Regions from separate parts of the Homo sapiens genome. Here region 1 is linked to region 2. The links come from fine-mapping of genetic effects on plasma protein levels. A gene starts in region 2. The other region holds a variant in brackets. All regions are shown on one strand. Distances are between the middles of the regions.

Region 1 (16,668 bases), 30 kb before region 2:
GACATGAGCTCATTCTTTTTTATGGCTGCATAGTATTCCATGGTGTATATATGCCACATTTTATTTATCCAGTCTGTTATTGATGGACATTTGGGTTGGTTCCAAGTCTTCGCTATTGTGAATAGTGCCGCAATAAACATATGTGTGCATGTATCTTTATAGTAGAATGATTTAAAATCATTTGGGTGTATATCCAGTTATAGGATTGCTGGGTCAAATGGTATTTCTAGTTCTAGAACCTTGAGGAATCGCTACACTGTCTTCCACAATGGTTGAACTAATTTACACTCCCAACAGTGTAAAAGTGTTCTTATTTCTCCACATCCTCTCCAGCATCTGTTGTTTCCCGACTTTTTAATGATTGCCATTCTAACTGGTGTGAGTCTTTTCCTTTCTTTCAAGTATGTGTCTGCCAAGTTTTTATTTCCCTCATCAAACCGTGTATTATTTCTGACTATTCTGGTAGAAATGTTGAAACATTTTTAAGCCTATTGCAAATGTCTTCTGTCCAGATCCAGATAATTTCTAAAGGAGTCTGATCGATGCCTCATTACTGCCAGGGCAGCCTGCACTGCTGTAGTTTGTAGCCTATTTGCTTATAGTATGAATTATGTCATTAAGCAGACTTAAGGTATAAAAAGTTGAGTGACAAAGGTGTTTCAATGAGAAAAAAGGGACTTCAACTAGAATGTAAAGGGCACAAGAATAAAGTCAAGGAAGGAAGGGAGGAGGGAGAGAGGAAAGGAGGGAGGGAGGGAGGAAAGGAGAGAGGAAGGGAGGGAGGGAGGGAAGGACAAGGACACAGGCTAAACTTGCTAAAATGCTGGGATAATTGGCACGGAGAGGTGCTATTGCTGGAGAAAGCAAGTTAGATGGTCACCCTATTTATGCCATTTTTAGCTATTCTGCTCATTGGTATGTACTTAATAGAAATATGTGCACATGTGAAACAAGAGAAATATACAAGAATGTTTAAAGCAGCATTATTTATAATAGACCTAGAGTGGAAATGACTAAAATAGGCATCAACAGTAGAATGGAATACCATGTAGCAATAGAAAAGAATAAACTACAGCTACATGCTACAACATAGATATATCTCAAAGCATAATATTAATTTCCTTTAATATAAATGTCAAGAACAGGCAAAATTAAATTATAATGTTAGATATAATAATCACCTTTGAGGCTGGTGTAAGTGATTGATTAAGATAGTTTCAAGGGACTTCTGTGGTGCTGGCAATATTTTATTTCATTATTTTAATGTGGTAAAAACCATAAAATTTACTATCTCAACCATTTTTAAGTGTACAGCATAGTAATGCTAACTATAGCTCATTGTTTTGACAGGTTTCTTGAACTTTTCATCTTGCAAAACTGACTCTATACCCACTGGTCAAGTGATCTTCAACAAGGGCACTGAGACTATAAAGTGGGGAAAGAATATTTTCTTCAACAAATGGTATTGAGAAAACTGAATATCTATGTACAAAAGAATGAAGTTGGACTCTTACATTATACCATATTTTAAAATGAAGTCAAAATGGGATTAAAGATCTGAAACTTTAAAACTCCTAAAATAATAGGGAAGAATCTTTACAAAGCTGAATTTGGCAATGATTTATTGGCTATGACACCAAAAGCACAAGCAATGAAAGCAAAAATAGACAAATGGAACTACATCAAACTAAAAAGCTTCTGCACAGCAAAGAAAGCAATCAACAGAGTGAAAAGACAATTTATGGAATAGGATAAAATATTTGCAAATCATATATCTGGGAAGGAGTCAATATCAAGAATATATGAAGAACACCTGTAACTTAACAACAAAAATAACCCAACTTAAAAAATTGGCAAAGGACTTATATACATATTTCTCCATAGAAGATATACAAATGCCCAAAAAGCATATGAAAAGGTGTTCAACATCACTAATTATTTAGAAAACGCATGTCAAAGCCACAGTGAGATATCACTTTATACCTATTAGCATGGCTGCTATTTAAAAAACAAAAACAACAACAAAAACAAACAAAAAAAAAACAAAAACAGAAAATAACAAGGGCTGGCAAGAATGTGGAGAAATTGGAACCCCTGTGCACTGTTAGTGGTGATGCAAAATGGTTCAATCCCCATGAAAATATATCTCTGGACTCTATTCTGGTCCACTGGTCTGTATGTCTGTCTTTACATCAATACCATACTGTTTTGATTGCAGTAGCTTTGGAATATGTTTTGTAATCAGGAAGTGTGAGGATTCTGGTTTTCTCATTTCTCTTAGGATTGTTTTGACTATATGGCTTCTTTTGAGATTTCATATGAATTTGAGAATTTTTTATTTTTAAAAATTCCATTGAAATTTCATAGGGATGGCATCGAATCTGTAGATTACTTTACATAGTTTGCATATTTTAATAATATTAAGTCTTGCAATCTGTGAAAATAGGATGTTTTTTCATTGATTTGTGTCTTCTTTAATTTCTTTCAGCAATGTGGTGTAGTTTTTAGTGTATAAGTCTTTCACCTCTTTGCATAAGTTTATTCCTAAGTATTATATATTTTTGATGCTATAATAAATGAATTTTTTTCTTAATTATCTTTTAAGGTTGTTCATTGTTAATGTATAGAAATGCAACTGATTTTTGTGTGTTGATTTTGTATCTTGCAACTTTGCTGAATTCATTTATTAGCTTAAACAGCTTTTTTTGTGGAGTTCTTACAGGTCTCTACAAATATGGTCAGAGGCGTTCGAACTAGAGTGACTCCATCTTGAATAGGGGGTGGGTAAAATAAGACTGAGACCTACTGGGCTGTGTTCCCAGGAGATTAAGCATTCTTAGTCACAGGATGAGAAAGGAGGTCAGCACAAGATACAAGTTACAAAGACCTTGCTGATAAAACAGGATGAGGTAAAGAAGCTGGCCAAAACTCACCAAAACCAAGATGATGATGAACGTGACCTCTAAACGTCCTCACTGCTCATTATATGCCAATTATAATGTATTAGCATATTAAAAGGCACTCCCACCAGCGCCATGACAGTTCACAAATGCCATGGCAATGACTGGAAGTTACCCTCTATAGTTTAAAAACAGGAGGGACCCTCAGTTCTGAGAAATCTCTGTCCCTTTCCCAGAAAACTCACGAATAATCCACCCCTTGTTTAGCATAAAATCAAGAAATAACTATAAATATATCCAGTTGAGCAACCCATACTGCTGCTCTGCCTATGGAGTAGCCATTCTTTTGTTTCTTTAGGTTTTTAATAAACTTACTTTCACTTTACTCTTTGAACTCGCCCCAAATTCTTTCTTGTGCAAGGTCCAAGAACCCTTTCCTGGGTTCTGGATCAGGATCCTTTTCCAGTAACAATGTCATCTGCGAACAGATAATTTTATTTCTTCCTTTTCAATTTAGATACCTTGTATTTCTTTTTCTTTCCTAATTGTTTTTGCCTAATTGCTAGGACTGCCAGTACTATGTTGAATAGAAGTGGAGAGAGTGGACATTCTTGCCTTGTTCCTGATCTCTTATATGAAAAGCTTTCAGTCTTTCATTATTGAGTATGATGCTAGCTGTGGGCTTTTCATATATGGCCTTTATTTTGTTGAGGTAAAGTATCTCTATTTCTAGTTTGTTGAGTGTTTTTATAATAAAAAGGCATTAAAATTTTGTCAAATGCTTTTTGTGTCAATTGAGATGATTATGTAATTTTTATCCTTTCTTCTGTTAATGTGGTTTATTACACTGATTGGTTTTTATATGTTGAATAACCCTTGCCTCTTAGAGATAAAACCCACTTAGTCATGGTGTGTAATCCTTTTAAGGTACATTTGAACTCTGCTAGAATTTTATTCAGAATTTTTGCATTAATATTTATCATGGATATTGAACCTCATAGTATTCTTTTCTCATAGCAGATTGATCTGGCTTTGCTATCAGGTTAATTTTGGGCTCAGAGAATAAGATTGGGTTTTGCCTCCTCTTTAATTTTCTGGAAGAGCTTGAGAAGGATTGGTGTTAACCTTTCTTTAAATATTTGGTAGAATTTTCCAATGAAACCATCTGGTCCTTGTCTTTTCTTTTCTGGGAGGTTTTTGATTACTGATTCAGTCTCCTTACTGGTTATAGGTTTGTTCAGACTTTTTATTTCATGATTAAATCTTGGTAGATGGCATTTTTCTAGTAATTTATCCATTTTTTTCTAGGATATCCACTTGGTATAAAATAAAATATTTCCTGTCATATGCAAAACAACTTTCATTTCATTCTTGAGTGGTGCTTACTTCTGATCACAATTGTGTATAACAGAGATGTCCAATCTTTTAGCTTCCCTGGGCCACACTGAAAGAAGAGTTGTCTTGGGCCACACATAAAACACACTAACACTAATGATAGCTGATGAGCTAAAAAAAAAAAAAATCACAAAAAAAATCTCATAATGTTTTAAGAAAGTTTACGAATTTGTGTTGAGCCACATTCTAAGCCGTCCTGGGTCACATACAGCCTGCAGGCCACAGGTTGAACAAGCTTGGTGTATAACCAAGTGCACTCTTAGAAAAATTTGAACATTTTAAAACCAAACTGCCTAATGAAAACCCCTATTATTCAAGAAGTGTCTATATAATATTTAATTTTTTCTAATTTAGCATAGACCATCAGTTAAAATTAAGAGAAACACAAGTATAACTATCAAACACACCCATGAAAAAAATCTCAGAGTAATAATTTGATTTTTGTTTGACTATTTTGTCTGTTTGCAAAGTAATGTGATAGATTTTCAGTAATTTATTGAGTCACTTTCTCAGTCATCAAGTTGTTATTGCATTTATCAGACTAAGAAGTCACTTCTTAAAGGCAGTTGTAATTACATTGTAGATGCAAAATAAAATAGAGAACAACTCTATCAATCCCCTTCATACTTCCTTCCTCTCAAGAGTAAGGCTCCATTTCTTTCAGAATATCCTTTAAAAACTAATTGAATAGAAATCCATCTCCTTCCTAGCATCAGGGATTGAGAATGGGTACCACACATACTTGAAAAAAAGTGCTGTAAAACGTTTGCATTTCAAGACAAAAAACTAACCGCTGGCTGACACACCTGAGCAAAAGGCAACTCTGCCTTCCCTGTAGTAAATGTAATTTAATATAGGTCATTAGCTAAGAGAAAAGCAGCAATTTGAATTTTCAAAGTTTGATTCTCAGGGTCCTCTACTTAAGAATCACCTGGGCTGCCCATTAATGGAAAGGGCAGGGAGGGTCCCATGAATTTGCATTTCCATGGGAAGCCAGAGTTATTTTTTTCCTTTGCAGAATCTCAATAAGCTCTGGAGAATTAGATGGACAGGAAAGATTGATTCTTTTGATTATTTGTGAGAATTATTGGCAGCTCCTTAAGTGGCAGTAACATAGAGTAAATTCCTACCTCAAAAATATCTTAATAGATTTTTAGGTTCAGACCTATAAATTATTAGATATATTAGTTTTTAGATTTCATATTTCAGTTATGTTGGATTCTACTAACTCATCAATTCATGGCATTAATTCATGGTATTTCCAGAGTTCTCTAAAGTCTTTTCATATCATACTCACTTTCTATATTTCAATATGCCCCAGGAGGGCAGGAATCTTTTTGTTTGTTCACAGATGCATAACAACTACCTAAAACAATTCCTGGCTCATAGTGTTACAGTTTGGATTCACCGCTGGTAACTCAGATACCTGCCATTGGTAACAATGGCAAGTGTTCAACAAATATTTGTTGAATGAATGAATAAATGTCAGATTAAATGTCAGTTTCTCATTTTGTTGAAGCCGTAACTGTGCGCACAAAGATTCAGAAGGGATTCTTAGGATTTGAACAAGGCCAGTGGCTTTTGATTCAAGGTACTAAGGTTTCATGCACATCCGTGTGAAGAGACCACCAAACAGGCTTTGTGTGAGCAATAAAGCTTTTAATCACCTGGGTGCAGGTGGGCTGAGTCCGAAAAGAGAGTCAGTGAAGGGAGATAGGGGTGGGGCCGTTTTACAGGATTTGGGTAGGTAAAGGAAAATTACAGTCAAAGGGGGGTTGTTCTCTGGCGGGCAGGAGTGGGGGTCGCAAGGTGCTCAGTGGCGGTGTTTTCGAGCCAGGATGAGCCAGGAAAAGGACTTTCACAGGTAATGTCATCACTTAAGGCAAGGACCGGCCATTTACACTTCTTTTGTGGTGGAATGTCATCAGTTAAGGTGGGGCAGGGCATATTCACTTCTTTTGTGATTCTTCAGTTACTTCAGGCCATCTGGGCGTATAGGTGCAAGTCACAGGGGATGCGATGGCTTGGCTTGGGCTCAGAGGCCTGACATTCCTGCCTTCTTATATTAATAAGAAAAATAAAACAAAATAGTGTCGAAGTGTTGGGGCAGCGAAAATTTTTGGGGGGTGGTATGGAGAGAGAATGGGCGATGTTTCTCAGGGCTGCTTCAAGCGGGATTAGGGGTGGCGTGGGAACCTAGAGTGGGAGAGATTAAGCTGAAGGGAGGCCTTGTGGTAAGGGGTGATATTGTGGGGATGTTAGAAGAAACATTTGTCGTATAGAATGATTGGTGATGGCCTGGATACGGTTTTGTGCGAATTGAAAAACTAAATGGAATAACAGAAGGAGAAAAACAGGCATAAAAGGTTTAAGAATTGGGATGACTCAGGACATCTGATTAGAGAGTGCCTAAGGAGATTCAGCATAGTCCTGCCAGCAAAGATTATTTATTTACTTCAAGAGTTAAGAGTGGCAGTTTGGGGATAGCACCAGGAGATATCAGCTGTGGTGGCTTGGAGAAACAGTGTAAACCGGCAGTGTAAACAAGAGCAGGGCATGTATGAGTAGTTGAGAACGCTGAATAGGAGTATGACTAGACAGAAGATAGTAGGGATGACAAGTTTTTTGGGCCACAGTCTAAGTTGGTCTGGTGTCTGGAATGAGACTGGGGCCTAATAAAAAGGAGCGTCTATACAGGAGCTTAAATGGGCTGTATCCTGTAGCATTCCGAGGACAGGCCTGAATTCTGAGAAGGGAAAGTGGTAAAAGTATTGTCCAGTCCTTTTTAAGTTGGTGGCTGAGCTTGGTGAGGTGTGTTTTTAAAAGACCTTTAGTCCATTCTACTTTTCTTGAAGACGGAGGACCGTAAGGGATATAAAGGTTTCACTGAATACTAAGAGCCTGAAAAACTGCTTGGCTGATTTGACTAATAAAGGCTCGTCTGTTATCAGACTGTATTGAGGTGGGAAGGCTAAACTGAGGAATTATGTCTGACAGAACGGAAGAAATGACTGCGGTGGCCTTCTCAGACCCTGTAGGAAAGGCCTCTACCTATCCAGTGAAAGTATCTACCTAGACTAAGAGGTATTTCAGTTATCTGACTCGGGACATGTTGAGTAAAGCTAATTTGTCAGTCCTGGGTGGGGCAAATCCTCGAGCTTGATGTGTAGGGAAAGGAGGGGGCCTGAATAATCCCTGAGGAGTAGTAGAATAGCAGATGGAACACTGTAACACCTTGTCCTCACAAGATTTGTCTCCATATGGTTCCATAAATGAGTCTACATATGCCATTCCACAGGAGACTTACCTGAATATCATGAATGGTGTCATATTTCAGGTACATATTGCTATAGGCAGATTGAATACTCAGTGACGGTGTAGACAAATCAGTCATGGTGAAACTGAGCTCATAT[T/C]GGTGAGACCATGCATAGCCTCCATTCCTGCCACCATGTTCATTTTGTATACCACCATTGACAAATCATACAAATGGCTAGGGAATTAGGCAGACTGACATCCCTAAGAGAGATCATCTTATCCATTTAATTATTCAAAGCACTCATTCACCACTTGGATGCCCTCTAATGGGCATTTACATGGGATACAAATATCTTCCCACTCTGTGCCCATGCTGAGAGGCCCATCACAGACATCTCCCCAGACCTTGTCACCACTCTTCTTATTTTGTTCTTTCCAGTTCCTTAACCACTGGCCAATTCACCCTTTGTGCTATCTCCCCTTCCACATTAAATAGACACCCAAAAGACTGCCCAAAATTCTGCCTCCTGAGAACATTTTCTTTCCTCACTATCTTTCAGTGCCACCCATGTGGGGCTGTAATGCAGTAGCTATCCATTTCTCTTAGAGGTCCACATGCCATCCATCCATAAGCCAGGCCCATTCTTTCTTCTCCTTCAGCTGGTCATAGAGAATTCCCTCAACGAATTGGAGCAGTTGTCCAAGGGAAAAGCAAGAGAGTAGTAACAGCAGCTACCATGGAAGTCTGAGCCACTCACTCACGCAGTTTATTTGTGCCTCCAGACCCTTCTTGGCCCTGTCTCATATATAACATTTTCATTTTACACTGGAATGATATGTGCATGTCTAAATTTATGACGCATATTTTATTATTTTCAAGTCAGGTGTTCAGTCTTTGACTCACCCAGCAGCAAACTAAAAGGTGTTTTTCAAGTCAAGAATAGTTGTCAGAAGAGGCCAAGTCTTATTCTAAACACCTGAGAGTCTCGCCCTGTAAGCCTGCCAGAAGCTCTCTATAACATCTCTGTCTGAAGCTAATGTTTAGTGCCTTGAGTCTAACAGATCATAAGAGTGAAGCAGCCTAGACTTGCTGAAGAGCCTTTTGTGCTTTTCTTGGTGTGACCCTACTCAAAACTGGCAGCCTGACAGATTTTCCAGCAAATATTAGGAGCAGCATCCCCATATGTGGTATATGAAGCCTCCCAAATCCAAAGATGCTTACAAAATGCTGTGCCTCCTTCCTTGCAGTGAACCAGGCAAGATGCAGAAACTGATATCTCACTTTAGTAGGGATACCCCAAAGTACCCAAACAAGATGACTGGATACCTAATAACTTTGCCTATGTGGCAGGTCCTCTAGCACCCTCTAGCATTCATGTGTCTTACTTAAGGCATATAGGTTCTTGATAGTTCCTGCTCATACAGTCCAGTTGGCATAATTTCATAAAAGTAATGGACTAGCATAAAGTTCTGTTCCCTCCAAAGCACATTATAAGAGAAATGGGTGAGTTGATGTAGATAGCCCTTAGGGAAGTCAGTAAAGTATCCTGCTATCCCTGCAACTTGAAAACAAACTGCTTCTTATTAACTTAGCTGATAGAGATGTCAAAAAGCATTTGCTAGATCAGTAACTACATACGGGCCAAGGGCTATGTTTTATTTTGCTGTTTCAGTGAAGATACCACATCAACTGCAAGTGGCATTACCATCTTATATCTATGGTAATCTACAGTCATTGACAAATGGTCCCCCCAAAATAATATATTAATAAAATTTTTCCCACTGTTATATGGACTCATTAGCCAAGGAATGAGAAGGTCGTTTGGTCAAATGAAAATAACACCTGGCTAATTTTTTCTGAATGCTGGGCACTCTTGCTCAGAGAAGTGTTAATAACTTGTGGATTTCAGGGCTAGAGTGGGAATAAAGTAGTGTCCTATTAGTGGTTGGTGGGGTATTTGAGACTTTGAGGTCAAAAGGAGATCTGGTCTTGCTCCAGGAGGGAGTTGGATTCCCTGAGTTTAATAGGATGTTTAGGTAGCAGTTTCCATAAAAAGCAGAATTCTGTGTCCTGTCCAGGGAAGCACCCTTGGAAACTGCCAAACTTCTGATTGGAGTGGCAATGTGGATGTGAAATAAAATCACTAAGCACCCTCACCTCACGCAGGGAAGGTCCTGATGGCTGAGCTCAGCATAAGTTGCCCGTGCAAAAGAACTTGGACAATTCGCATTTTAGTGGTGAGCAGGATGGACCAAAAACAGAGGCTGGTTCTTATGCAATCTCCAGAGTCCACAAAAAATCATTGCATTTGGATGTGCCACTGTCTAGACAGCCCACAGCAAAGGCAAATTACTTTATCCATCCAATAAGACCCTTAAAAGTACTTTTTTTTCTGGTGCGTATATTTATAAAGCACTTTGAAGCCTTGATATAAAAGTACCCAGAAAGCAGAAGGGTAACCATAATCTAAGAATGAGTTTAAACCTGTGGAAGATCATTCAGGAGTGCACTTTGGAGAGTGAGCCAGGAACTAGCCTTTGTTTCCCTGCATGACTCTGTCAATCTTGCTTTCATGCTTCTTTCTTTAGCCTTTTCATAATAGTCTTAACAGTCATGTCAACACATCACTTATTACACATTGTTAAAAAGGATTACTTCTGGGAGACTGTACTGAAAGGAGAAATTGATGCCTTTTGCAATTTCCTATTTCTATTCTTCTAGTAGAAAGTCAATAAAATCTTATTTTAACAAAAACTAAAACTAAAATTTTCATGTAATGTTTTTACAAGGAACATTTTTTAAATCGTTCTTGCTATAAAAATAGTGCTGCTCACTCCATCAGTTCTTAATTTAAAACAGATTTTCAACACTCTTAGAGAAGTAGAGTAATTTGCCCAAGGTCTGTGGCTTTCTTCATTATTCCAGCCCCAGCACAAGGAAAATATTCTCTGTTTGGCTCTTCCCAGTTGCATAATGGAGAAAAAACTATCAGGACAATTCTCTTCAGTATGAAGTGGGAAGCTATGTTTTATTAGATTTTTTGAAGACACTCAAGCGTTTCATCTTTTTGACAAAATCAGTGGTTCCTCTCTGGTTAGCAAAATAAATGGCAACTTAATTAACTCCATGAATGTTACACTTGAAGTCTGCCTGTCCACACTTTCTTCTTAGGAGTTAAAAAAAAAAAAAAAAAAAAAAAAAAAAAAAAAAAAAAAAAGATACAAATCCCTAGGGAATTATTCTTATTTCAGATCACTGAAAACAGCACAAGCATATTTTTTAAGTGTAGAATTGTCCAAAAGAAATTCTATAAAAAGTGGTTTCTATTTTTTTTGAGGCAGGGTCTTGCTCTGTTGCCCAGGCTGGAGTGCAATGATCACGGCTCACTGCAGCCTCCACTTCCCAGGCTCAAGCCATCCTCCCACCTCAGCCTCCCAAGTAGCTTGGACTACAAGCACTCACCACCATACCTGGCTTTTTCTTTTTTTGTAGGAATGGAGTCTCACTATGTTGCCCGGGCTGGCCTCAAACTCTTGGGCTCAAGCAATCCTCCTGCTTCTGCCTCCCAAAGTCCTGGGATTACAGGCATGAACCACTGCACCCATCCCTCTATTTTTCTAAATTGCCTTGCAAGATACTCATGGAAATACAAAAATGTTAAGGTCATGGCCACAAACTATACAAGGTCCATGTCCTCTATTAAAAAACAAAATGAAAACCAGGCATCAATGTCATTATATGGTACATTCTGGGAGAAGATTTAAAGAAAAACAAAAAGAGAGACAGAGAGACTGGAAATGCTTTTTAAATGCCTCTGGAAACATTGTTTCTCTACTGTACTCCCATTTGTTTTTACTTTTCCATTTGTGGCCTCATAATGATGTAACAGGATCTGGATACATCATTCACCAAAATGACAGGTGAAGGTTTTGCCATCAACATGAGCTCGTTCATCAGACAGCAGAAGCTGACTACATTTCTAGATCTGTGATTTTCAAAAGGTAAAAAAAAATAAAAAAAAGACACCCTTAAGAATATGATACTCTGGTGGTTTCTGCAGAAGATAAATGGTAGAGAAACGTGAAAACAATATTCTCTGTGATGTTTCCCAGAAAACCTAGAGGTCCAGTCTGGATAGCTCAAAGAGGAGTTTGTTAACACATTTACAGGTTTTGCAATGAGTCAATAGTCCAGGCCTATCCTCTAGGATACCAAAACATTAGGGCTACATATAAGCAAGTCTATAGGAGGTCATTTCTCCCAGGATTCAGTAAATCAAGGTCTAAGTGTTTTCTTTCTTTCCTTCAGCCAAAATGTGAAGGACTCTATAGGCCCTGAATGCAAATAGAAAGATACAACTAAAATCAGCATGATAAAAAGCATTAGTAGAGAAGCTATTGAATCTACTACTATAAAAAAGAAACTGAGACACCTGGGGGAAGGGGCGGCTGTGGGCGTCAGCAGACTTAAACGTTCCTGCCTGCAGGCTCTGAAGAGAGCAATGAATCTCCCACCACAGCACTGGAGCTCTGATAAGGGACAGACTGCCTCCTCAACTGGGTCCCTGACCCCCATGCCTCCTGACTGGGAGACACCTCCCAGCAGGGGTCGACAGACATCTCATACAGGAGAGCACCAGCTGGCATCTGGCAGGTGCCCCTCTGGGAAGAAGATTCCAGAGGAAGGAACAGGCAGCAATCTTTGCTGTTCTGCAGCCTCTGCTGGTGATACTTAGGCAAACAGGGTCTGGAGCTGGAGTGGACCTCTAGCAAATTCCAGCAGACCTGCAGAAGAAGGTCCTGACTATTAGAAGGAAAATTAACAAACAGAAAGCAATAACATCAACATCAACAAACAGGATGCCCACCCAAAAACCCCATCCGAAGGTCACCAACATCAAAGACCAAAAAGGTAGGTAAATCCACAAAGATGAGGAAAAACCGGCGCAAAAAGGCTGAAAATTCCAAAACCAGAATGCCTCTTCTCCTCCAAAGGTTCACAACTCCTCGCCAGCAAGGGAACAAAACTGGGCAGAGGATGAGTTTGACGAATTGACAGAAGTAGGCTACAGAAGGTGGGTAATAACAAACTCCTCTGAACTAAAGGAGAATGTTCTAACTCAATGCAAGGAAGTTAAGAACCTTGATAAAAAGTTACAGGAACTACTAACTAGAATAACCAGTTTAGAAAAGAACATAAATGACCTGATGGAGCTGAAAAACACAGCATGAGAACGTCATGAAGCATACACAAGTATCAATAGCCAAATCGATCAAGCAGAAGAAAGGATATCAGAGATTGAATATCAACTTAATGAAATAAAGCATGAAGACAAGATTAGAGAAAAAAGAATGACAAGCAATGAACAAAACCTCCAAGAAATATGGGACTATATGAAAAGACAAAACCTATGTTTGATTGGTGTTCCTGAAAGTAATGGGAGAATGGAACCAAGTTGGAAAACACACTTCAGGATATTACCCAGGAGAACTTCCCCAACCTAGGAAGACAGGCCAACATTCAAATTCAGGAAATACACAGAACATCGCAAAGATACTCCTCGAGAAGAGCAACCCCAAGACACAAAATCGTCAGATTCACCAAGGTTGAAATGAAGGAAACAATGTTAAGGGCAGCCAGAGAGAAAGGTCGGGTTACCCACAAAGGGAAGCCCATCAGACTAACAGCAGATCTCTCTGCAGAAGCCCTACAAGCCAGAAGAGAGTGGGGGCCATTATTCAACATTCTTAAAGGAAAGAATTTTTTTTGTCAGACAAAAATTTAACTTTTTATGAGATTTCAGTTTTTGAAATACACAACTCTTATAGGTAACAAACCTGCATATTCTGCACATGTATCCCAGAACTTAAAGTATAATAAAAATTTTTTAAATTTAAAAAAGATAAAAATAAATGTCAAATTTCAGTACAGACATTCTTTCTCTTCTTATCTCACAAGTTATAAACACAATATTCCAATTTATAGTTAATAAAACCTTGATTATTTTAAAGGAAAAAACAATGAAGCTGAGTAAACAAGGTGAAATATGGCCTGTTGGGGCACTTCTATCATGGCTTTAATTAAATATTGTCCTAAATGAACAGAAAAGAAATTTAATGAAGGTTCATAGTGTTAGCTATATATATTGATAAATTATACATCCATATATATACATGGAGTATGTATTTTTGGAAGAGTAACCTGAAGAAAAAAGGCATACAGAGGCAGAATGATGGTGTGCTGAATGCAAATAAGAGCTATCTCACCTGTTTGGCCTTGATGTTGGAGGGGATACTCTCTATCATCCATGCAGCTTTCACCTGGTTAACTCCTGCTTCCCCTTTCAGGTTCGTTGTCTGATGTCCCCAGGTGAGGTTAGGTGTTGTGCTGTGTGCTCTGAGAGCAATGGCATGCTGGTAAATGTCTATAACTGGCTCTTTGAAGGAAAAAACCCTGATCTGCAGCAATTTCCATGGTGTGAATACTCACGCCATGGTTTATCTTGAGCTACCAACATGATGTCATTGAATGAAGAGTTAGGGAAATGTGTGCGGTAGCCAGCATTAAGAACAATTCCACCACACAACGACAGCCATAAAGAACCTCAGCAACAAGATCATCAGGAAATGATGGGGCATTTATTACCTTTGCTTTTTAGTATAATTTATCTAATTTATTTTTGATATAATTTATCTAATTATAAGTTTACATAACAATTTTTAATAATGTCTGTGTTTAAAATGAGCTCGCAAAATTCCCAGAAATTTAACAGTCAGCTCCCATAAACTGGCAGATGCTACCTCTTCCTCCTATCCCTGTTGCATAGCATCCTGTATTTATCTCACAATAGCACTACCATGATTGATTTTAATTGCTTGTTTAATTGTCTTTCTTCCCTGATAGACTTTATTCTTGATGAGGGCAGAGTTTCCTTATACCTTACTATTGAGCTACCACAGTTCCTGACACATCATGTTTCAGAGTTTTGTTTTATAAACAAATGAACAAAATGGATAAACAAATGTCATGGGCACCAGCCCTGGTTTCAGCACTAGCTACCAAGAGCCAGCCTTTGTGTTACTGCCCAGAATGCACCAGCCGACTTTGCACTATGGATTGCATCTCAAAGAATTACTCAAATGTTACCTATCAAAATTCAATGAATTAAGAAAGCTGTAACATACACAAATCAAAACACCATGTTGTACATTTAAAATATATACAATTTTAAAAAGAAAGCTATAACACAACAGAATATAAGATAGAGTTTGGATGAATACTACTCAATCCATCCATTTAAGAAAGCTTTTGAGGGCCCGTCATGCTCCAGGCACTAGTGATAAAGCAGTGAACCAAGGAGAAAATTTTCTACCAACATAGGCCTCACATCCTAGTGGTAGAGACAGGCAAAAAAATTAACTAACTAATTAATTACTGTCTTACAAAATGCCAAGTAAGGATAAATTCTATGAAGAAACAGAGACAAAATAATAAAGACTGAGAAGTACGAAGATGATGGGGAAAGCCTTCTTGAGGAAGTAGCATCTGTGAAGACACTTGAGTGAGGTGAAGGAACCAGTCACGTGACCATCCGAGGGAATATTCCAGGCAGAACGGACCACAGAAGCACAGGTGATGTGGCACGTGGAGCCCAAGCAGGTTGGAGAAATAGGAAAGACATACATATGATTGGAGTGGGGTGCGTTAGAGGAAGAGTGTACATGAGGTGAGAGCATAACATGGGGACGGATTATGTAGCGACTTAAAGGTCAAAGAAAAGATTTGGTTTCACCTTGTGCATGTGATGCTGTCAAATTGTCGGAAAAACAGTTTACAATATTTCACCAAAGCAGAATGAGTTAAGTGTGTGTGTGTGTGTGTGTGTGTGTGAACTTTAATCACCACCCTGGGTGCAGTTAGCTAATATTTGTAATATTCTAAGCAGTAATTCACACACAGGCACAGTAAGTGTTTGGAAAACCATAATCAGCAGTACACATTTGAGAGTTGCTTTTAGCAAGTGCTTCAAATTTCCCCATCTAAATCTTCACCAAAACGTTTAAAAAATAGCATCAGGGATATTAGAAATAACCTTACATTGCTGTGATTAGTAGTATTTAATAAATATAATTGGCTAGAAAGTCTATATAAACACTCTTTTCCTTGCAGGAAAAAGGTGTAAAAATCTGGCAGGCTCAACAGGACATGGCTGTGGCTCTGAAGTTCTGTTCATCAGGCCTGCGTCTCCCAACCCCACCCCATCCCCTTCTGTCCTAAGTGCACACACATACACACACTTACATTTCATACAAGGCTGTTTACCGGATCCTAGTAGATGATTGGCTCATCCTACACTGAAATATTGACAAGGCTGCCTTAAAGTGGATCTTGTGGAATGACAAAAGGACAAAGGACTGAACGAGATTGAATAAGTGCTTTTATATCTGTTTGCTAATAGTTGCTTATATGTGTGGCAGAATTCTGAACATTCCCATACCCTACCAGGGAGTGAAGCTATGGGGACGAAGACGAATGGCACTCACCCACGTCTAATGGGAGTGGTATAATATGTGGAAAGCCTGAGGGAGTTGTTGGGCAGCATGGTAACATGCCTAACTGGCATTTTAAATTCTCATTTAGAGTAACCGTTATTAATTTTTGAATATTTAAAAGTGTTCAGTAGTAATTAGCACATAAGCTTCAAGCTTTGCTTTTTTTTTTTGAGACGGAGTCTTGCTCTGTCGCCCAGGCTGGAGTGCAGTGGCCCGATCTCAGCTCACTGCAAGCTCCCCCTCCCGGGTTCACGCCATTCTTCTGCCTCAGCGTCCCGAGTAGCTGGGACTACAGGCGCCCGCCACCACGCCCGGCTAACTTTTTGTATTTTTAGTAGAGACGGGGTTTCACCATGTTAGCCAGGACGGTCTTGAGGTCCTGACCTTGTGATCCGCCCGCCTCGGCCTCCCAAAGTGCTGGGATTACGAGCGTGAGCCACCGCGCCTGGCCTCAAACTTCTTTATAAAATAGAACTAAACAATCATCCCCTTCTGAGGAGAAAACTTTGCTGAGGAACAGCAGACTTCAGTAGACTGATATGTGGGTGAAATGGGTGTTCTGCAG
Region 2 (16,578 bases):
AAAGTCCCTGTGGCTAAGAATGGGTTTGGCACTATGGGATGTTAACTACTATCCTCTTTGGATTAATCTGCCTTGCACTCTTTGCTGATCGCTATGGGTAACAGAATTAGGCATGTACAGGACCATGGGACATGAGGAGCTTTCTCCTCCCCAAAAGGGGAAACTTGAGAGCTGATGGGTCTGCTGGAAAAGATCCCTTCACTACCGACAGGTGGGAAATGCCATATTTTCCTTTGCTAAATCTGGCATCCCTATTGTCTAAGTCCATTTGTGCTGCTATAACAAAATTCCTAAAACTGGATAATTTATAAAGAACAGACATTTATTTATCAAAGTTCTGGAGGCTGGGAAGTCCAAGATGAAGGCACTGGCAGGTTTGGTTGTCTGGTGAGGGCTTCTCTCTGTTTCCAAGATGGTGCCTTGTTGCTGTATCTTCCAAAGGACAGAAATGCTGTGTTCTCACTTGGTATAAGGGAGAAGGGCACAAGAGGGGCAAAATTCTGTCAAACTCTTTGATAAGGACACTTAATCCCACTTATATGAGGGCGGACTCCTCATGACTCAATCACCTAAAGGCCACAGCTCCCAATACTGTTGAACTGGGGATAAATTTCAGCATGAGTATTGTAGGAGACAAACACATTCAAACCATAGTACTTACCATAGGGTTAAATATAAATTTCTGTTTTATCATGGGTTAAAAAATGTCTTGGTGATCAGACATATTGAATGGTGATGGCCACCCAATAAGATGTGCTCGGTATCAGTGGAGAAACTAGTATTTATCATTCTTATAAATAATCTTTTAAACTTTTTAATAAATTATTTGAATAAAACAATTTGGTTTAAAAATAAATAACTTGGATAGAAAAATCTTGGCTGTTCAGGCAAACCATCTTCTGAGACCTGGTCCTGCAATTAAGTAAGTATATGCCATTGAAAAACCATTTATCCTCTACAACTTTGTATTAATAAAATGACCATAATTCCTTTCTTATTGTGTTGAGAAGAGGTAGATTCAATTGTGAAAGTTTCTTTATACCCATTCGTCTCTCACTCTGCTCCATAGGCATAATCATTGCTGACCATTGGATGTGTAGCATTCTCACCATTTTGTGTACATTTTTATATGTGTGTGTATGTGCACATGTTCTTTTTTATTTACAAAAATTGAGTCATATTTTACATATTGTACTGAGACTTGCATTTTCATTTAAAAGTCTTGGATATCTAAAAGCACTTTTATTTATTTAATTTTACTAAATAGGTAATACATATTCTTTGTGCTGGGCTGAGTCTAAAATAGCCCACCGTGATCCCCAATTTGTGGTATTCATGCCCCCATGTAATTCGCTCCCCTTGAGTGTGGGATGGCCTAACAACTTGTTCTAAGGAATCTAATATGGCAAAAATAATGGGATGACATTTTCATGATTAGGTAACACAAAATTTTGACTTCTGTTTTGCAAGCAGACTCCTCTATTGCCTTCTCAGCTTGTGTGCTTTGATAAAGCGAGTTGTCATGTCGGAGAAGTAGGGATGCCTCCAGCAAACAGATAAGTGGGAACTGAGGCCCTCAGTCCAATAGTCCTCAAGGAACTGAATCCTGCCAACAACTATGTAAGCTTGGAAGCAGATCCTTCCACAACCAAGCCTTTGAATGAGACTGAACCCTGACTGACACTTTAATACCAGCTTCGTGAGACACTCTGATACAGAGAACGTAGTTAAGCTGTGCCTGCATTCCTGACCCACAGAAACTCTGAGATAATATATGTGTGTTGCTTTAATCTGTTAAACTGGTGGTAATTTGCTACTCAGCAATAGGTAGCTAATGCACACATTATACAAAATTTAAAAGCTATAAAAATTATTTCTCTGAAAATTTGTTTCCCTCCCATTCTTTCCTCTAGCCAATCAGATCCCTTTCCCAGAAGCAAACACAGTTACAAGCATCAATTTAGACAGTCAATCTGAAAGTACTTCAAATTTTTAAAGGACCATGCATATTAAAGATACTGATATTATTCTTATTACAATTCAAAGATTTACAAATGATTCTAAGATCTTTGATTAGTGAAAGTGAGAACATGAGACCAGCCTGGGCAACATAGTCAGACCTCATCTCTACCAAAAAAAAAAAAAAATTAGCTGGGCAAGGTGGCACATGGCCTGTAGTTCCAGCTACTCAGGTAGCTGAGGTGGGAGAATCTCTTGAGCCTAGGAGGTCAAGGCAGCAGTGAGTCATGACTGGGCCACTGCACTCCAGCCTGGATGACTAAGCAAGACCGTGTCTCAAAAAAAAATTTTTTTTTTAAAGAAAGTGAGGACAACAGGGATAACTACAGAACTATCCATAAGAGACTGTAAAGAAAAGGCAAAAAAATTAACAGGTAAGTAAAAGACAAGTGTCAGATAAGTTACATGTCAAATGCAAGTAGGATTATTTATACCTGGTACAAATTCAAAGTACAAGATTTTGTAAAAGGAACTGTTACTTATTACCAGAAAGGGATCAAAAGATCATTAAATACTTATCCCTAATATCATTGATTCAGTGACCCATGCCGACCATAACGCAAGGCATTATCAGGATGCATGAAAACAAAAGAGAAAGCATTGTATTGAATGGTTCAGAGCTATGCTCATGCATCTGACACAGTATATCGAACACAGTCCATTGCACCTCAAAACTGACTTGATGTAACTAGAAATGACAGGGTAGGGATGAGGGTGAAGGATTCACTCATATACTTGAGCTAAAGAATAGACTAAAATTAAAAAGATATTTCATCTGGAATAGAGGTGAGCAAACTTTTTCTGTCAGAGAGCAAATATTTTAGGCTTTGCAGGCCATATGGTCTCTATCACAACTATGCAACTTTACTGTTACAGCACTAAAGCTACAACATAAATGACGCGTAAATGAATGGGTATGGCCATGTTCCAATAAAACTTCATTTACAAAAATAATCTATGAATGGATTTGGGCAAAGGGCTTTTGAACTCCTGATCTAGAAAGATAAAGACAAATGATGCAAGCAGCTGAAGTCTTCTAGTTTCATCTGATTAGAAGCTTGAACACATCAGAAAAGAGCCAGCTGCCAAGAAGAAACCCACCTCCCCACCTCATAATGTCAATTCCAGTACTGCTTTCTGAATACATGGAATTGACTGTCATTGAGGGCATCTTTTTTTATTTGAACTAAATCTGCTCTAATCTTCATTCCTTGTGATTTTCTGCACTTTTAGAATTTAAGTTGTCTTAGAGCTGAAATGAAGCCACAAGTCAAGAACCATCCCCTTTTTTCTCAATGCCCTGCCTTCCTACCATCTCTCTTCCAGCTGGGAGAGTCTAGGACTGGAATCATAGTGCTAGATAGGAAATACTATTTTTAATAGAGGTCTCATTTTTATCTTTTAGGATTCTTATCACCCTTTTTTTTCAAAAATGCATTTTGGTTAACTGCATGGATACATACAATGTGTATTTTTAAACCATAACTGAAATTGATATTTTTATTTTGTTGTTTCAAAGCAACTAAAATTAACATTTACATGCCAATGTATAGAACTAAATGTTTTATATTTTGTGCAATATTTACTCCAACACTTAGCTTTCTTTTAGAATTCTTTCTGAATTCTTAGCTTTCTTTTAGTAAATTCCTCAACTGTTTACTCTATACTTTTATGTTTCATAAATTTTTGTTAAAAAAAAAAAACACTCAAATCCTGTGTGTGAAAGAAAGATCTACACACAACCATGTACCCGCTCAAACCTGGTACTATAGGATAAAAGTTTAATTGATCTTATTTCCTAATCCTAATCTGCCTGTCCACCTGGTTAACACTCAGGCTAGAAGATAGGACCACAAAAAATAAGTCAGCTGCCAATTTTATAAAACTGCTGTGGAAGTAAAACATGTTTTAGAAAAATAGATTTACTGTATGTAGGATTTCTATCCTTCTTAAAAAGTAAAATTTTTATACTCATTTATATTCTAGTCAGCGATTACAAAATGTTTGTAATCTTTGTAATCATCATCTTTATAATCTTTGTAATGAAACTCTGTCACCCTTTTCCTTCTAAATTCAGAATAACATCATCTCTACGATAAACCGGGTTCCTAAGAGACCAAGCTTGATGAAACAACATGTATGTTTTCAATCTTACTAGAGGTTAAGACACCACAATTTCACTTGTGTCTGAACCAACTCCTCGTAAACAAAAATAAAGCTGAAACCCCAGTCTGAGATGCTTTGGCACTGTCTAAAAACAGAAAAAGGCCACTTTACTGATCCCAGCCTCCACTTCCTCCCCAACCCAGACAAATGGGTGTACCCACTCTGCTGATATGTCACACATAACCTCTTTTGCTACTTCACTAAGAACTCTGGCTAACCCCTTAGCCCAGCTATGACCCACAGACCAAAAGACCACCAAAGGTTTAGGAATATCAGTGAAATAAATATACAGGAAAGGGTCAAAGCTTCAGCTCCCAACAATAAACAGTTTCTGACATAAGCTACTGTTTCCTTTAATTATGGTCATCTCCATATGAGGATGGTAGAGTGCTTTAAAATTCTTCAGGTTTCCTAGAATTTACCTCCCACACAATATTTGATCTGGTGAGAGGCAACTAAGACTAAAATTAATCTGTGAACACATCCTTACTAGTAAACGGAAGTCATTCAAAACCTTCAGAGAACATGACTTTAAGTTCTCAAATATAACTAGATGGGTTGATTTTAACTTGATCTCTTATTTATTTATTTATTTATTTATTTTCATAGAGACAGGGTTTTTGCCATGTTGACCAGGCTGGTCTTGAACTCCTAAGCACAAGCAATCAAAGTGCTGGGATTACAGACTTGAGGACCAAGCCTGGACAATTTAACTTGATCTCTAACTGCCACTGGCTACTTGTTAGAAGGTCAAAAAGCAAAAGGTATCCAAAAAACAGGTGGCCTAACTAAGAAGTAAAAGCAAATGATGCTGTGTGAACGATTCAGAAGTTGCGAGATGAATTTATCATTTAGTGGAAGGCAGCTGTAGCCTCTTTCTTCTCAGAAATAAGCCAACTTAACAATATTTAATTATGTGGTATAGGCAAGATAAAATTCAGGTTCCCAGATTCCCAACATGGGACACTATCCACTAAAACCTATACCACAGCTGATTCTCTTCTTGCAAAAGTGGGAAAAACAAAAACAGAGGATCAAGAGAAGCCCGCTATCCTAATCACTTATCTACTGATATTGCATACCATCTCCTTGTGGAAAAAATTAGTCACATACTTATTGTATAAAATAATCAACTTCAATTTTAACATATTAGTAACCTCGCATGAACTTATTCTGGCTTTTAGAAATGGGGGAGCAAAAATTAATAGAAAATAGATACATATAAAGTTATAGCACCATAACTTAAATTCCGTTTCATGAGTCTAGTGACCTGGAACACAGACGATAAAATCCAAAAGCTATGAACTGAGCAATATTATGCATATGGCATTGTGTTAATTAAGGTAACATCTGCTATCGTAACAGATGTCAGGCACTAAAGGCAATAGAAACTTATTTCTCATTCATACTGATGGCAACGGTGGGCCATCCGGAGCGGTTGCTGTCATCTTGCCAGCTGCAGCTGGGAGGCGCCAGCGGTGGTGGCAGGAGCGGCTGTGGGAGCAGTAGTGGCGGGTTGCGGGGGAGGGGGTACCCCTGTGCCCTATGTCCAATGTCTGGGAGGCAGCCGACTACGCCACCGGGACCCTAGCACTGCAGGGCAGGACCTATCCCCAGGCCCAGAGCCTCCGTAGCTCAGCCCCTGGCCCCGCGTTGCTGCTGTCACCCTCTGCTGCTGCAGGGAGGATGTGTGGAAGAGGCAGACAGTCCCCGAAGCCCACAGCCCTGGGGGCCACCACGATGGGGCCAGGCCAAGTCGCCCATGGGCAGGGGAGCAGCTGTCAGGCAGAGAGGGTCCCCAAGGCAGAACTGGGTCCAGGGCAGTGTGACGCTTGCACACAGAGCGTGGTGGCCGAGCCAAGGCGCTGACCTGGGGTGTGCTTCAGGGCCCCATGGCTGGAAGTGGGAGCAGTGCCCGCTTCAGGACCCAGCCAATTTTTGCAGTGACAGCACCCACCCCACCAAGCCAAGTTCCTGCACGTCAGGAGAAGGCTCTGCACAGGGCTGACTGGGGCTGTGTCCAGGGGTTCCGTCCCGCATTGAGGTGATCACCGGGCCTGACACTCTCAACTGCCAGGCCAGGCCCTGATCCACTCCCAAAGGGTCCCCCTCAGACAAGGCTGTGAGCTGGGTGGGCAAAAGCCCCGCCCTCCCAGGAGCAGGACCTGGGAGTCTGTGCAGTCTGCACCCTAGGGGGCCTGTCTGCTCCTGCTGCCTGGTCTCTCCCCACTCCTGGCACCCACTCCAATCTTGGAGTGGGGTTGGGGCCAAGCCGGAGAGCTGTCACAGCCCAGCTGGCTGTGCGCATGCTCCGGACAGCACTGACACACCAGCCCCCTGCCACCTCGGCCTCCTCCAGACTTTGGGCACTGATGAGTGTTGCGGGGAGGGAAGTGGAGGTGAGGATGAGGGCAGCTCAGTGCTGGCTTGCAAGTGCCCCTTTGTGCAAGCAGCCTGGGTGCCATGGACAGCCACAGGAGGCAGACCGGCTCCTGGGCAGAAGGGGGCAGGTCCAGGTGAGGCCCCATTTTCAGGCCAGGGAGAGCCTGAAGGCTGGGGGCCAGGCTGCCAGTCCCACAGACTGGAGCGGAGACTCGTGGTGTCTTTTCCAGGCCTGCCCATGGTTGCCCATGGACCAATTGGTGTGCACTTCTTCACCTCTGAGGTCCATAAATGCCCTGGGCTCAGCAACACCAGGGCAGAGGATGGAGAGATGAAGGGACAGCCAGCAGCAGAGAGGAGATACCCACTCTGCTGAGAACTGAACACTTTTCGGGATGACCTGCCTATATCTCTGATAGGAGCTGAACACTCGTCAGGACACCCTAGCTATGGAGAGGAGCTGCCCACTGTGAGTCTTCCCTGAGGTGTTCTGTTGCTCAATAAAACTCCTCTTCGTCTTCCTCACCCTCCACTTGTCTATGTACCTCATTCTTCCTGGTCACAGGACAAGAACTCAGGACTTGTGGAATGGTGATGCTAAAAGAGCTGTAACACAAACAGAGCTGAAATATGCCCCTTGCTCGTTTTGTTGGTGGGCAAAGAGGAGAGAAGAGCTGCAGCCCTTCAGGGAGCCTAGACCTGGGATCTCCCTGAGCTAGGGCTGTGACTCCCTTTTTGAGACCCTGTGGTCCCTGGTGTCTCTGAGCCTCTGGGCACCACCACATTCCCTAGTATGAGCCAGGACAGCTGCCTGTGGGGCGCTGGTCCAGCCACAGCCTTGAAGAGAGCTGGCGCCCATGTCGGCACCTGGAGCTTCCTGCCCCGCAGCAGCAGCTGGCGTGTCTGACTGCACAGTGGCCAGACTCTATGCTCATTCACACCCCATTGCCACTCCATGCCTGACTCGCGGCATCCCTTGGAGGCATGGGATCCAGGCCAGTAGCATGAGCTGAACACAGCCTGCCAGGCTGAGTGGGCAGAATGAGTCCAGTGGGCCAGAGGCAAAGGCACCACCGGCTGTATGTTTCTGGCCAAAAAAGCAACACTCCAAAGATCCTGTAACAATACGATATCTAATGCTAGGGTTCCAGATCAGCAGACAGCTCAAGTCATGTTCTCCCTGGGCTCTGCTATCCAAAATGCTTCAGTCCTCTTCATCTGGTGAAAGGGTAAGGAAGAAGACTATGGGGGAGGCACGCTTTTTGAAGTTTTTAGGCACTTCCGCCTGGAAGGGAAACACATCACTTTGTTTTACATTCCCTTAGCAAGAACTAGACATATGGCCACATCTAAATGCAAGGGAGGCTGAGAAATGTAGTTTCAGCTGGGCAGCTGCTTCCCAGCAACTACTCTGAAGACAACACATCTTTGGTGTACAGCCAACAGTACCTGCACAATTATTATGGTAGGTGCTACATAGAATTCAAATGTGGTAAGGCATAAGACCAACTATGAAACATGTCTTTCTGTAGAAATATGATACTTGTTAAAATACAATAAGCAATTTGTTCAAAGTTTAGAGAGTCAAGAAAACTAATATTTAAGATCATTGTATCTATTAAGAATGAAGCTAATGATATTAACCCATAATCAGTAGGTGTGTGTTTTGAACTGGTGATTCACAGCTGTTTGAGATTAGCAGAGACATACTGACACTCTCCCACACTGTATGGCTCATGACCATAGCATGGCGTTAGCTGGGTGGCATATGTGAAAAAATTAAGCTTTTGTTCTTCTTAGATTTGAACTTGTTAGAGGCAAGATTTTTGAAAATCCTTACAAAATTTCTCTCTTCGGTATCATTGGAACTTACAGCTTTTGTTGTATGGTTATTTGGGTTTTTGTTTTTGTTTTTTGTTTTTTTCTTTTCATTTTAACCAAGTTTGGTCAAATTTGGATGCTTATAATTTTGATTCACATCTTAGAAGTTAGTCTCTGGGGCCAGGCATGCGGGCTCGCGCTTTCAACCCCAAGACCACTTTGGGAGGCATTTTGGGAGCTGAGGCAGGAGGATCTTTGAGTCCAGGAGTTTGAGACCAGCCTGGGCAACATAGGGAGACCTCGTCTCTACAAAAATTTAAAAATCAGCCAGGTCTGGTGGTGCACACCTATAGTCTAAGCTACTGGGAAGGCTAAGGCAGGAAGAGCGCCTGAGCCTGGGAGGTCGAGGCTACAGTGAGCCGCGATCACACCACTGCACTCCAGCATGGGTGACTGAGCAAGATCTTGTCTCAAATAAATAAATAAATAAGTTTGTCTCTAAATATTAGCTCCTCAACTGAGCTGCATCTTAGCATCCTCTTGAAAGCTTTTCTTAACACTGATGTGTAGAACTAAACACTTCCTTCCCTGGAACCCTACTGGCCCTGTAAATATACACCTAATATTTATGCAAAGAGTAAATGCAATCAGGTAAACAGAAGTGACCGGCACATTAAATGGCTTCTATTATAGTTATGTGAAAAAATTGAGGTCATAATACCAAACTTATGTCATCGTTATGAATATTAGACAAAATGCATATTTTTAAATCTAGTACTTTACAGGTGTCCCATAAATATATATACAATTACCATTATTGTTGTTATTATTGTTGTTATTATTTTGAATATCTCTCCTTTTAAAAGGCAAAGACAGAAGTTTTGGGCTCACTCTTTGTTACTGTAGAAAAAGTAAATGTTAAGGGCATAATAATTACCAGAAAATTCCCTTGTTTCTTAGGGAAAAAACAAGCAGCAGAAATTGCGTTAAGCATGAAATGGCTGAAAAGAGGGCAAACTGATTCTGGATGACTCGTGAACAATATCATTAGATACAAAGTGAAATTAATAGGTTATCTAGACTAATAAAATCCACAGATGCTTGGAAATGAAGGAGATGTGAATGCGGGAAAGAAAAATCTAAAAACATCTCCAGATTATGGCGAAGCCCTATATGCCTGACCTGTTTGGCAATAAAACTACCCCCAAAAACCACAAGAGGCATTTTCCAGGAAAGAGGCAAGCCAATCTCTTCAGTCAGTTTCTCCTCAATCCCCTACTCTGGGTAATGAAATCTGAAAGAAATTCATGTGACCCATACTGGGAAAATGCCTCTAGAAAACCCATATTGTGGGAGGTAAGAATAAAAAATTCTCAGAACATGAAAGATTGATTTATTAAAATTGTAGGTTGGGATTGATTTACCTCCTTTTTTTAAAAAAAAGTTTTATTTTTATTAGTAGTATTATAATAATGCTCATTAATTTTTATCTATAGTTTAAAATATAGCAAAACACATGATATTTTACTTAAAAACATCATAACTCTTCGACTTCACCTGTCCCCTGGTCTATTAAAGACTCTTTGAGTTAAAATCTTTCTTCAGTGTGAACTTCTCTCAAGAGCATCTCTACTTCTACCATCTGTTTACTCCTCTTGTTGTAGTGTCAATATTTTATTCCTCATGAACTTGAAAAGGAAACATAAATCACAAAATTTTAGAGCTGAAATGGACCTCTAAAATAATCCAGATTAACTCTATCAAGGAACTTGAGACCTAGACAAGAGAAAGGATATGCCAGAACCCCATAGAAAAGAATTTGAGATGGGAGACAAGAAAATCTAGGCTCTTCAAATTCTGCAATGGCATTTTTAAAATGTATACATAAATTATTTTAAGAACCCAGTAGAAGCTCCAGCCTCTTGGAGTTTATACTAAACTCACATGCTACCTGGGCTACCATGGGATTAAACATTATTAAAATAATGCTCCTTCATTCACTTGTTCCTCTAAACATTTACAGAGCACCTAACAGGAAACTGTGGATACAAACATGAATAAATCCCAGTCCCTGACTGCTGGGAGTTTGCTTTTTAGCGTGAGGAGGACAAACATTTAAGGCAATAAAGCTTCATCGGTGCTATGCTAGATCAAGTGCAGGCTGCAGAAGGAGTTAAAAAGTGGGAGTTGGTTATTTCTATTTAGACCAGAAAAGGTTTTATAGGGGATGCTTTGATGCATGATGTGCAAATATTTCAGAGACAGGTGCGGATGAGACTGGAGGGATATTCTAGATATAAGGACCATGCAATGTGAGTAAAGGCATGGAGACCTGAAATAGAATGACACACTGGGGAACCCACATGGCTCTGCATGATTGTTTTAGGGAGTACAAGGAGAGAAGTTGGGCAGAAATAAGGCTGGAGAGACAGAAGAATGCCAGACCCCAGAGGACCTCATGTTATGTAAGAAATAGCAATCACCTGGGCAGTCCTTTTTAGGCACAGGAAGCATGCCTGAAGTTCTCAGGTGTAATTCACTCAAGCGGAACACTATCTATATTGGAATCTGAAGACGTTTAATTCAGGAGGCCGGGAGCGGTGGTTGATGCCTGTAATCCCAGCACTTTGGGAGGCTGAGGTGGGCCAATCACTCAAGGCCAGGAGTTTGAGACCACCCTGGCCAACATGATAAAATTTCATCTCTACTAAAAAAAAAAAAAAAAAAAAATTAGCTGGGCATGGTGGTGCATGCCTGTAATCCCAGCTACTTGGAAGGCTGAGGCACAAGAATCGCTTGAACCCAGGAGGCAGAGGTTGCAGTGAGCCGAGATCGTGCCACTGCACTTCAGCCTGGGTGACAGAGTGAGACACTGTCTCAAAAATAAATAAATATGTTTAATCTGGGGCTTTATGAAGGCAACAGAAAATAATCAGCAAGAATAACTCAATTTATGTAAGAACTATATACATGTCATAATTGAGCTAAATTTCTTCACTGAATAAATATTTTTGGCACATAATCTGCAGAGGGATTAGCATATCATGGAACTTACACTCTATGAGGAATTCAAACATTAAAGAAGAAATCAAATTTTAATATAGAATATTTTAAATTACAGGTTTAAGAAACATAAATGTTATGCTATGGGATAGGGGCATTAATGTAAACTATGCCTTGACAAGAATTGTCGAAACAAAAAACCTTAGCCAAGTGTAACCAGAAAAATATCTGACTGAGCTGCTTTTGTTGTCTAGTTTTACTCCCCTTTCTTTTGATTTTGTTTTCTCTTTTGCACTGAAATTGTCACCTTTTCATATCAACCTTATGATAGATTCTCTACCAAAAATTACTCAAACATCAGATTTTAAGCAAGAATTCTCATAAACCAATTTCGGAGAATGATTTTCTCCCCTCAAATATATCTGCAAAATGACTGTCACTGACCGCTTATTGCCACAAAATGTCTTTTTCTGAACAAACAAGGTCCTCCTGCAGCTGCTAGACTTTCTATTTGTGCTTTTCCACCTTGTTCTATCTCCCTCTTTGGATCCTCTCTGATTACAGCCTCCTCTATTGTTCCCCAGGTTGTTATAGGTCTCGAGTTTATGCTGCTGTGGTTGATGTTGAGTGGGAAGGGGGACTTTCTGTTTGGATCCAATCCCAGAATACCCATCCCTTCAACTCCAATGTGGACACAGGGTCTCTACCATATACCTTCTCTACCCAGGGTGCTGCCAAGTTTACTGTTTAGCCACACCCCCTTAATCTCATTGGTTACTCAAGTTTCAAATTTCCTAGTTGATTTTCATGAACAAATGGGCTCCATGAGGGTAAGAATGGTGTCATTTAAGAAAAAAAAGTTAGTAATTTAAGTCTACCTTAAAAAAGTCTATCATTTAAAGAGCATTAGAATGTCCTCAGAGTTACTAATACTACTTTAATGAAGAAATAAATGCTAGATTCTTGAGTACAGGCAGATATTAGATATCAATATATGAGATATACTCTGAATTCAAGCATAGTGCCTATGCATTGTATTCATAAGCAAAAACTATAAGGTCAGAATTCGTGTCATAGATGCAGGGCTGAGTGGGCAATCACCAACAATTTATTGAGCACTTACTCCATAACAGTTCTATGTGTCTAAAGGAAAACTTTTTTTTATTTGTTTTAAATTGAAACTAATGTTTACCAATGGTACGACCACTTTGTCAGGAGCTGACTTTTGTTGTCTAAGCTATTGAGCAATGGAATAAAAGAGTTTATGGTGTTTTTGTTTTTTTTTTTTTGTATTTCTGAAATGCTCTAATTTCATGTCTGAACTTGAAAATAGCACCCTCTTATCATCCACCTTTGCTTGCTACCCTGTGATAAATAATGCCCCTTTTCCCAGTCTATATATGATGAATGGTGCTAGGCTTCCGATTAGCTTTAATTCCAAACTTCTTTATGACAGATTAGTGGTGTTACCAAAATATCAGAGTCATGTCTGAACCTTGACTCAAGGGAAAAAAATAATTACCTGTGGAGCTGAAAACACTGAAATAGTTGGTTACACTTTACTAAGTAAAATATAATTAGAAATGTTCAAATAAACTGGAAGTGAGTTTAATAAAGTTGTCCACCAAAGTAGTGACATTGAACACTTACTTTTTATTATATGGGAATTTTCATGTAATTCAGGAAAAAGACCTTAAGGCTCTTTATTTGTTTCCATGTGTCCTCTTAGTGTGTATAATTTAAGATCACAAATTACTCTTTGCATTCTAGTTTGACAACTAAACTTTTTTTACTTTCCACTCACAAGATTTATAGGGAATTTGTGCATTTTGACCTTTTGATTCTAACAACCAATCATTAGCCAATCAAGAATGGAAACTTTGGAAATATTACAGATAGAGCCACTGTGATTTAAATCATTTAACATGTTAATTCTGACAGAAAATCCTACTCAGAAAAAACAACCAGCAGCAGCATGTTTGAGTGCAAACAGCAAGAAACATCCCAAAACATGACCTCCCCGATAGTCAGAATGACGCAGCATCCATTTCCTACTTTACAGAATTGCCTCCCATTATAAATCACTTTATCTTCTCAACTCCAAAGCATCCCAGACACATTCTTTACCCGTGAATTCACAAGCCTTTTCTCTGAGAGAGGCCTTGGGACTAGGAACTTTTTGAATGAGTGTAGAAGTCGGGAAGGAGACAATAGTGTCAACTTGGGATTGCCTAAGGCAACAACAGAGCAAAACAAGAACGCTTTGGTTCTCTGGGTCTCTGTCCCTGATTGCATAGCGGGTCATTGTTGGGAAATATTTCCTCACCTGGCATTCCAAGAAATGGAGAGCTCCACAGCTGTATATAGTCCTGTCATTAAATACAGGAGTGTTCTATCCCGCTGGAATTAAGAAAATTGGTAGAACCAGATTGTGGTCTGAAATCTTTTTTCAGAAATGCTGCCATCGTGTGGCACTGCGGAGCTATGACCAGAAGAGTCCTGTAAAGGGTCGTATGGTTCATCTCAAGATGGCTGGGCTCCAGCATAATCTATTCCTATAATTAATTCTAGCTTCATATTGAATCATTCCCGTGGGCACAGAGTAAACTACAGTAAATCCTGTGGAAATTTTGTTGTTTTTAGAATTTTCAGACTTCCCTCCACTAAATTGACAACATGACACGCTTATGCGGGTATGTTTAAAGGAAAAAAATAGTTTTTAGAAGCAGAAAAAAGAAGTCTATTTTGCAACTTTATAATCTGTGTGCTTTCTATTTTATAGAGATAGTCGTCATCTTACTTATTAAAATGGGTGCTTATTACCTACAAACCAATCATATCAATTCATCTGGAATACATCCAATTTAAGGGAGACATATTTCCCCCTACCAAATGTTCATGAAACCTATGAATTAGCTATACACTATCACTGCAAGACATTATTTAATCTATATTTATATTAAAAGTAATATTTGGCAAAAGGAAGCTGACACTTTAGGACTAATAAAAACCACAATTACTTTTGCAGCAACCTAATAATAAATAGGACCATTTATTTTTCATCTCAATTACACACAAGTCTTAACAATAAAGGTGTAAGGTAAATAAATAGTGCAATCTGCATTTCACAACTGAGAAAGCAAATGAAGATAAGTAATCTCAAGGCAATATTAAATATTTTAAAAGGACCCAGAGCTCTGCTATCCCTGAATTCTGCTCTAATATTCGGACTTTCCCTGTAATTTTCTTTCATTCAGACACCTTTTAAATACCTAGTAAAGTGTTTTTTAATACAGAAATTTTTAAAAATGTTTTTCTTTTTAAGTGGCCTACTTTACATACCTTGGGAGAAAAACTAGAAAAAAAGATGATTCCAAAATCGAATCTGTTCCTTTAGAAATGTGCAAAATTTCCTTATTGATGCATACAATTTAAAGATCTTACGTCTACTCTCATTTTAATAACCTGTTCTTTTAAAGGACATTACAATTCGTGACTGCCTGCCCCTCTTAAAAATTTCATAATAGTTAACACACATATAGTCCTTAAGATACGCAGAGCATTTGCATCTAATATGTGCTAAGCATTGCTAGTTTAACATACTAATTCATTTAAACCCCTCAAAAACCCCATGACCTAGGTAATAGTATTGCATTTCATGGATGAGGGAACAAGGATAGGTAGGCTGGGCGATTTGCCCAAGGTTGCACAGGTCAGCAGTGACACAGCGGAATTCAGAACCACGGTCTGGCTCCTGAAGCAGCCCTCTCAAGCAGTCATCCTGCTCTCAGTCAGAAACTGCTTTACTTCTGCAACATCTAGAATAAATTACCATTCTTCTATTTCATATAGAATTTTATATTTTAATGTCACTAGTGCCATTTGTCTAAGTAACAAGCTACTGCATACTCGAAATCACAAAGCTAAGCTTGAGTAGTAAAGGACAGAGGCAAGTTTTCTGAACTCCTTGCAGGCTTGAACAATAGCCTTCTGGCTCTTCAATAAGTACAATCATACAGGCAAGAGTGGTTGCAGATATTACCTTTATGTTACTTAAACCGAAAGAAACAAAAATCCATTCTATTTAATTTTACATTAATGTTTTTCCCTACTTTCTCCCTTTTTCATGGGATCCCTAAGTGCTCTTCCTGGATGCTGAATGCCCATCCCGTAAATGAAAAAGCTAGTTAATGATATTGTACATAAGTAATGTTTTAACTGTAGATTGTGTGTGTGCGTTTTTGTTTTTTTTTGTTTTAACCACAAAACCAGAGGGGGAAGTGTGGGAGCAGGTGGGCTGGGCAGTGGCAGAAAACCTCATGACACAATCTCTCCGCCTCCCTGTGTTGGTGGAGGATGTCTGCAGCAGCATTTAAATTCTGGGAGGGCTTGGTTGTCAGCAGCAGCAGGAGGAGGCAGAGCACAGCATCGTCGGGACCAGACTCGTCTCAGGCCAGTTGCAGCCTTCTCAGCCAAACGCCGACCAAGGTACAGCTTCAGTTTGCTACTGGGTTGTGCATTCAGCTGAATTTCATGGGGAAGTCCAAATTCTAAGGAAAAATATTTTTAATTGTAATGCTGTTAAACAGACTTAAATTTTCTAGCCTTTTTAATAAGCAGATTAGATACATTGCAGGTCTCCTGGAACAAAGGTGTCTAGATATTTTGAATGCCAATCAAATTTAAAACTTAAAAATACTTCCACTGGGTCCTCAAAAGAACGGAAACCACCGATGCTAATCAGAAAATAGTAAAATTAAATTCCCCTTTGGAATAATTATACCTATATAATTTTCAGTGGGTGACTGTGCAGGAATTTAAAAGAAAAGGGATCTTTTATGCTAATTAAACCAATTACAATGCTATTTTTTAAATGATGTATCTCACTTTTAAGGGGAAGAAAACCCTTTCTGAATATGCCACTGCTAAATTTAGCTGTTAAAATATTCACCAAGATACCTGTATGACACTGTGTAGGCTTATTATTACAAATAGAAAAGCTGTTGGCTATTTTCAATGTTTTCCTTTGAATTTCAAATTTTTAGAACATCTTACTTAAATAACAAATTTCAGAGATAGTTTGATTTCACCTAAGTAGCACCTACTTGATAATTAAGCTAAAAGTCACATTTAAAGTACATGTTGGAAAAATGGATAAAGCAAATTTTTTTCATTTTTTTCTGTGAG

Direction of the effects. Alleles are on the strand shown, and positions count from the first base shown. The strength of an association depends on the size of the effect and on how common the allele is.
For the plasma level of the protein whose gene starts at base 15,793 in region 2, T is the high allele of the variant in region 1 and C is the other (weak association).

Evidence for each region. PIP is the posterior inclusion probability: the model's chance that the variant is causal. Protein levels are from antibody-based Olink assays in UK Biobank. Linkage for the fine-mapping came from a reference panel and not from the study's own genotypes, which makes the PIPs less certain.
Region 1: its variant is fine-mapped to the plasma level of the SPP1 protein (UK Biobank, PIP 0.97).

The regions. Positions count from the first base shown.
Region 1 is chr4:87,930,025-87,946,692 of GRCh38, forward strand. No RefSeq gene overlaps it. Among named protein-coding and RNA genes, the nearest start is that of SPP1, 37 kb to the right of the region's middle. RefSeq lists an enhancer at 5,807-6,628. The variant T/C (reference allele first, on the strand shown) is at 7,709.
Region 2 is chr4:87,959,922-87,976,499 of GRCh38, forward strand. It overlaps SPP1 (secreted phosphoprotein 1), which reads left to right and starts at 15,793. Exons shown (of 7, transcript NM_001040058.2): 1 at 15,793-15,879. It overlaps LOC124900730 (a long non-coding RNA gene), which reads right to left and starts at 13,848. Exons shown (of 2, transcript XR_007058172.1): 1 at 13,718-13,848; 2 at 302-462. RefSeq lists promoters at 13,547-15,789, 14,789-15,876, 15,666-15,879, cis regulatory regions at 14,799-14,808, 15,024-15,032, 15,099-15,107, 15,545-15,560, 15,735-15,744 and 1 more and enhancers at 15,051-15,071, 15,434-15,933, 15,696-15,766.